2 linked regions of the Homo sapiens genome follow. The protein of the gene in region 2 purifies or fractionates together with the protein of the main gene of each other region. This does not show direct contact. Each region holds a gene or a part of one and is shown on either strand. Other genes may lie near its edges.

Evidence for each region. The genes of interacting proteins can lie anywhere in the genome.
Region 1: the proteins of LUC7L3 (region 2) and PHAX fractionate together in Homo sapiens (co-fractionation; one large-scale study listed by BioGRID). This does not show direct contact.

Annotation. Positions count from the first base shown.
Region 1 is NC_000005.10:126,614,343-126,617,998, forward strand, and holds part of PHAX (phosphorylated adapter RNA export protein), read left to right. Parts: intron 1-2,907; coding exon 2,908-2,991; intron 2,992-3,656. UniProt on the Homo sapiens protein: A phosphoprotein adapter involved in the XPO1-mediated U snRNA export from the nucleus.
Region 2 is NC_000017.11:50,736,603-50,740,258, reverse strand, and holds part of LUC7L3 (luc7-like protein 3), read right to left. Parts: intron 3,300-3,656; coding exon 3,233-3,299; intron 2,901-3,232; exon of another isoform or gene 2,780-2,900; intron 2,151-2,779; exon of another isoform or gene 2,060-2,150; intron 1-2,059. UniProt on the Homo sapiens protein: Binds cAMP regulatory element DNA sequence. May play a role in RNA splicing.

The sequences.
Region 1 (3,656 bases), on a different chromosome or scaffold from region 2:
CCCGTCTCGGCCTCCCAAAGTGTTGGGTATAATACCCAACACCCAACCCGTGAGTCACCGCACCCGGCCACAAGTGTGTATATGTACCTATTTCCTTATTTTTAAAAATTCAGTTATTTGAATAGGCAACCAGTTCACATGGTAAAACAAGAAAGAGTATCAAGGGCTAAAGGGAGGAGGCTAAGGGAAATTTATGTGTACAGAGTTTCAGATTTGCAAGATGAAACAGTTTTGGAGATCTGTTTTATAACCGTGTAAATATACTTTACTACTGAACTGTACACTTAAAAATTGTGAAGATGACAAAATTTTTTTGTCATGTCTTTATTATCACAATAAAAAATCAGTAAAAGAGTGTGTAGTGAGAGGCTACCCGGACCACACCTATCCTTGAGCCACCCAGACTCCTCTCCAACACCCATTATTTTTTTTGAGATGGAGTCTCGCTCTGTCACCCAGGCTAGAGTGCAGTGGTGCGATCTCGGCTTACTGCAACCTCTGCCTCCCGGGTTCAAGCGATTCTCCTGCCTCAGCCTCCGAAGTAGCTGGGATTACAGGCACACACCACCACGCCCAGCTAATTTTTATATTTTTAATAGAAACAAGGTTTCACCATGTTAGGCTGGTCTCAAACTCCTGACCTCATGATCTGCCCACTTTGGCCTCCCAAAGTGCTGGGATTACAGGCGTGAGCCACCGTACCCGGCCCTAACACACTTGTTTTTACACAAATGGTCATATACTATGCATACTATTCTATACCTTGCTTTTTTTTTTTAACTTAATTTCTCTTAGAAACCTTATCAAGTATGTAGAGAGCCCCCTCATTCTTTTTTGCAGTTGCTAGCATTCCAGTGAATAGTTATATCATAATTTATATGACTATGTGTATATGACATACATGCTCAGTCGATCCTCATTATTTGTAGATTTTATATTTTCAAATTTGCCTACCTGGTAAAAGTTATTCATAACCTCAAATCAATACTAGTGGTGGTTTCACAGTCATTCACAGATGTGCAGTGTCTAAAAAAATTTGAGTTGTCCGACATGCACATGCTTAGCTGAGGTCAAACAGGGCAACATTGCTTTGTTTCAGCTTCCATACTATAAACAGGTGTTCTTTTCAAGGTCTATTTTAGTGCCATCTTTTTCACATTCTGTGCTTTTTTTTTTTTTTTTTTGCGCCCCTCTGGGGATTTTGCTGTTTAAAATGGCCCCTCCAAGGGTAGTGCTGTAGTGCCAACTAGTGTTTCTAAGTGCAAGAAGACTGTGACATGCGTTAGAGAGAAAATATGGTTAGATAAGCATCGTTTAGGCATGAGTTATAGGCTGTTGGCCACTAATTCAATGTTAATGAATCAACAATATGTTTTCAATAAGGTGTCTTTAAACCAAGATACATACAAGGTTATATACTGATCTGTTGACAAAAGTGTTGTCTATCAGAGGCTTTCAGGAACCTAACCCTGTATTTTTCAGAAGGAATGTTTCAATATTTGCTAATTCAATGTTTGCAGCAACTTTATAAAACGTAACTACCATGACTATTGAGAAGCCACTGTATGTGTGTATATATATCTGATTTATTATATATATACATTTAAATATTTGATCCCTTTGGAATATATCTTGGTATAAGACATGAGGTGTGAATCCAACATAATATTTTCCATGGTGGCTACCCAGTAGCTCAACCACCAACTTTTTTTTTTTTTTTTTTGAAATAGAGGTTTGCATGAGACTTTGTCTCAAAAAAAAAAAAATGAAATGGAGGTTTGCTCTTGTCGTCCAGGCTAGAGTGCAATGGCACAGTCTCGGTTCACTGCAACCTCCACCTCCTGGGTTCAAGTGATTCTCCTGCCTTAGCCTCCCAAGTAGCTGGGATTACAGATATGTGCTACCATGCCCAGCTAATTTTTGTGTTTTTGATAGAGACAGGGTTTCACCATGTTGTTGACCAGGCTAGTCTTGAATTCCTGACCTCAGGTGATCCACCCGCCTCGGCGTCCAAAGTGCTGGGATTACAGGCGTGAGCAACTGCGCCCAGCCTCAAATGCCAATTCTTGAATAATACATTTATCTTCTCCAATTTAAGATAGTATCTGTATCATAGACTAAATACCCATATATATTTGGCTTTTTTTTCTAGGTTTTCTATTTTGCTTCACTGATCATTCTAGTTTTATTTTGGAACCATACTGTTTTAATTATTTAGAGTTTATGATGTGTTTTAACATCTAATAGAATATTCATGGTGGGTGCGGTGGCTCACACCTGTAATCCTAGCACTTTGTGAGGCTGAGGCGGGCAGATCGCCTGAGGTCAGGAGTTTGAGACCAGGCTGGCCAACATGGCGAAACCCCGTTTCTACTAAAAATACAAAAATTCGCCAGGCGTGGTGGGGAGTGCCTATAATCCCAGCTACTCAGGAGGCTGAGGCAGGAGAAACGCTTGAACCCCGGAGGGCAGAGGCTGCAGTGAGCCGAGATCGCGCCATTTCACTCCAGCCTGAGCGAAAGAGTGAAACTCCATCTCAAAAAAAAAAAAAAAAAAGAATATTCACTGACTTAGCCAGGTGGCAGATTAAAACAGAAAATCCAGTCATTTGTTAGGTCATTTGAGCTGAGTGGCCTATTTCTCTTTGTTACCATATAGATTTTTTAAATCACGGAATTTCAGAATTAAAAAAGACCAAATATTTTTGGCCTTCATTTTATAGATGAAGAAACTGAAACTCATATTTCGGTAATTTACTCATGTTACCTATTTTGTAAGAGTCAGAATCAGGACTGGACTTCAGATCTGGTATTTCTTCTATCCCCTTAATTGTGTCTCTGTTAAAAGATGCCTTGACCATTTATGGGAAGAGTATATGCAGTTTACCTTTTCTGTTCCTTTTTGTAGAATGGTAGTCGAAGAAGAACACCAGGTGGAGTTTTTCTGAATCTCTTGAAAAACACTCCTAGTATCAGCGAGGAACAAATTAAGGTAATGATAATGTCCTCACCTCTTAAGCGCCATCATAATTTGACTTCTACTCACCCTCTACCTTCATTTTCTATGGATATGCATTACCTGTTCTGCCTTCAGTGGACTGATTTTGTTATTATCTTAAGTAACATTTATGCCTTTTATTTATTTATTTATTTTTGAGGCGGAGTCTCACTCTGTCACCCAGGCTGGAGTGTAGTGGCATGATCTCAGCTCACTGCAACCTCCGCCTCCCGGGTTCAAGTGATTCTCGTGCCTCAGCCTCCCAAGTAGCTGGGATTACAGGCACATGCCACCATGCCTGGCTGATTTTTGTATTTTTAGTAGAGACGGGGTTTCACCATATTGGCCAGACTGGTCTCAAACTCCTGACCTCAAGCAGTCCGCCCGTCTCGGCCCCCACAAAGTGCTGGGATTACAGGCGTGAGCCAGTGCTCCCAGCCAGCCTTTTATTCTTTGTAGAGACGGGGTCTTGCTGTGTTGCCCAGGCTGGTCTTGTACGTCTCGGCTCAAGCAATCCTCCTGCCCCAGTCTCCCAAAGTGCTGCAATTACAGGCATGAACCATTCTTTCTTTACCTATACACTTTTTATTTGTTTCTCTATTTCTTTCTTTCTTTTTTCCCCTTGAGACAGGGTCTAAGGACCTGGCTCTATTGCCCAG
Region 2 (3,656 bases):
CCTTTTCTTGCCAAAAAAAAAGAGTTATTTTTCTTTTTAAAAAGAAAAAGGATTCACTTTATCACTGAGTAGTTTGTAGACATCTAAACTGATCCTACTAAATCATGAAGCATCATAACCAAATAGGATATAAAATTGATCTGCTCAGTCTTCAAAGTCAATATAATGGACAGCAACCATATATGGTTAAAAGAGAAGTAAAGGAGGGAGGGAGAAAAGGAGGGAAGGTGAAAGGAAACTGTTCCTTATTGCCACTAAAGAAAACTGATGGGGACAGACCACTGAACTGAACCATTGCCGACTTTATTATTTTCAAATCTGTATATAAAGTCAAATAGCACTAGACTAGTACCTAACCCCTACTTCTTCCCACCTCTAAAAAGCAATTATCTTAACTCTTCTCTATTTCTTCCCGAATTTACCTCCACCTTTTAAAATTCTATGCTTATTTTGCTATTTATCAATCCTAGACATCAAAATTTTTGGATAAATAAACACTTGGTGCTTATATTATGCAAGTACTATTCACTGTCAGGCCAAACAAAGGCTCATTATGAGACACTTCTGATGTTTTCTGTTGTTGTTGTTGTTGTTTTGTTTTTTTTGAGATAGAGTCTTGCTCTGTCGCCCAGGCCGGAGTGCAGCGGCGCAATTTTGGCTCACCGCAACTTCTGCCCACCAGGTTCAAGGGATTCTCCTGCCTCAACCTTCCAAGGAGCTAGGATTACAGGCACCCACCACCATGCCTGCGTAATTTTTTTGTATTTTTAGTAGAGACAGGATTTCACCCTGTTGGGCAAGCTGTTCTTGAACTCCTCACCTCGAGTGATCTGCCCTCCTTTGCCTCCAAAAGTGCTGGGATTACAGGTGTGAGCCTAGTTTTTTCTCTATATTTTCAAATTCTTCTCAAACACTTCAAACTCAGCTATAGAAACTATCTCAATACTAATTTCACATATGACTCAAAATATATCACATCATCAGTTTCATTTTCTTCCATGGGCCTTCTGCCTTACTTCAATCTGGGATACTTATTTTCTAAGCTCACTATAGAATTATTGTCCTGATGAATTCCTTTTCTGCTCTGTAGTAGATGAGAATTACTGGATCTCTTGTTTTTTCTTTCCTCTTTCTCGGTTTATGGACATGTTTTGGTGGAGTTTCCTGAGAAAAGGCCCGTGGGAGATAAATCAGTTGAGACCCTGTATATCTGAAAATGTCTTTTTCCCCCTCCGGCAGACACATTTTCACTCAGCACCCTGAGGATGTTTCTCCAATGTCTTCAACTTCCCCCGTTGTTACTGACCAGTCTTAGGCCATTCTGATTCATAATTCTGTGACCTACACCCACCCCCACCACCCCCGTGTTCTAAAATTTCACAGGGGTATGCCTAGGTATGGATCTTTTTCATTCACTGTCCTGATCACTTGTAGGACCTGCTCAACCTAAAGATGAATGTCCTTTAGTACTGCAAATTTTTTTTCTTAAGCAATTCCCTCTGCTTTTATTCTGTCCACAACTATTAAGCTGGTAGTACAGTTCCTGGACTAAGTTTTTTAAAAATCCTTCTGTCGTACTGCCCAATATTCCAGTAAATTTCCTTAATTTTATTTTCAAATCTTTCTGGTGATTTTAGTTCTATTTCTTCAGTTTTAATTTCTAAGAGCTGTTTTTCAGAAAATGTTTTTCACTTTTTCCACAAGTTCCCTCTTTATGGCATCGTATTATTGCTGAAGAATATAGTGTCTTCTCATATGTCTCTGAAGATACTAAATTTCTTAAGATTTTGAAGAATCTCTCTTCTGCTTTCCCCATTATCTCCAATTCCACTAAATTCTTCTTTCTCTGTTGGTTTTGTTAATCTCTTGTGTTGAAGGCTTTCTTCGAACGTCTGGCTGGTGGTCCTTGGCAAGCAACTAATTTTTTAAAAAGACACTTCCAAAATCTGACTGGAAGTTAGTAGGGATTAGGCAGGGTTTGTCAGCTCATGAATGGGCTTTATCATAGGAAAATCAGGCAGTAAGACTTTCTTTTAAGAGATTCCCCAAGGGTCAGTACCTGCAGAGATCACTTCTCAGGAACTGTTCACTTTCTCTAGAGAAGAATCCTCTTTTCTTCTGCCTGGGGAAAAACATCTGGCTGTATCCTTCTAGGAACAGGGCAGAGGAGAGCCCCACCAATAAAAATATAGATTCATTTACTCTGTTTTACATTCTTTTTTTAACTTACTACTGCCCCTGCTGTGTCTGAAATCTCAAGATCTAGACTGGTCCTGCCTTAATATGCTCCTAATGCTCTAAGGCAAAGATTGTACATAATGAATTGACTTCTTTTATGTATCCAGAATGATCCTGGTTATGTACCATCCTTGAGAGAATTGAGGAAATAGTCAATTATTTTTTTCTATTTTGTGGTTCAGATAAACTAGTCTCTCTAGTCCAATTTCTCCAGAAAATAACCCTCTCTTCTCCTGGGGTCTATGGGGAGGAGAGTAAGATCAACAGATGCACAGGACCACCTACACTAGTGGCAATTTTGCATCCTGGGGGACATCTGGCAATGTCTGAAGACATTTTGGGGTGTCACAACAGGGGGTGCTACTGGTTATCTAGTGGGTAAAGGCCAGAGATGTTGCTAAACATCCCACAATGCATGAAAAGCCCCCTCCAAAACTGGCTCAAAATGTCAACAATGTCAAGGTTGAGAAACCCTGAACTAGACTACAGACTAATCTCTCTCATTTTCAGCCCCATGACTCAACCCTGCCTTCTGTGGTACCTGGTGCCTCCAAATCCTGAGCCTGTCCAGGGTTCTGCTGATCAAACACTCGCTTCTGTTTAGTATCCCCTTCTGCAGGCTTTTAGGGTACAGGTTGCTCTGCTCTGTTGCGTTTGCTGCTACTCCTCCATCCACTTGTCATCTTCCAAAAATTTGCTGACATCTCTAATGTTATCTCCTCTTCCAAATACATCTTTTTAAAATTTTTTTCATTTAAGTGGAGTTTTGGGAGGGAGTGGAAATAGACATGTATGTTTAATTAAGCCACCATGTTTAATCAGACTGACATTTATTAATACATTCAAATATCTAAACCAAGTAAGAAATTACTTATTAGCAAATCTTTAAGAAAAAACTTCACAGAATTATAATCAGTTTTTTTCCTTTCACCACTCCTATTCAACATTTTAAATATCATAAATTTGATAAAAGTTACACAGAAAATTCACTTACCAAGATCAGAACGTGTATTTGTGAACAATTCCGCAGGACAAAAACCACAGAGATAATATTTACAAACCTAGTAAAGAAAAACAAAGGTACTTAAAAAATTGCTTGGTTTTAAAACTTTATTGGAGAAAGGTGCCAAATAACTATTTTCTCATTTCTTGAGGTATGTATGTTTCAACCAATGTAAGAATTTCATTTGTTGAATCATATTAGGTAAATTAGTGATTTTCAGACTCCTGAATTTCGATAAAAGAATAAATCTGCAGTACTCGTATTACTAGTATTTTCTTTATCTATTTTTAATCATCACCTGCTGACCCCCCAGTAGCAAAAACAAATATGGGAAAGACATCCCAAAATAAAGGGCAATTTTTATATTTTTAAAAACTCTTACGCTATTCTTATCATTTCATCTCTTTCATAGATT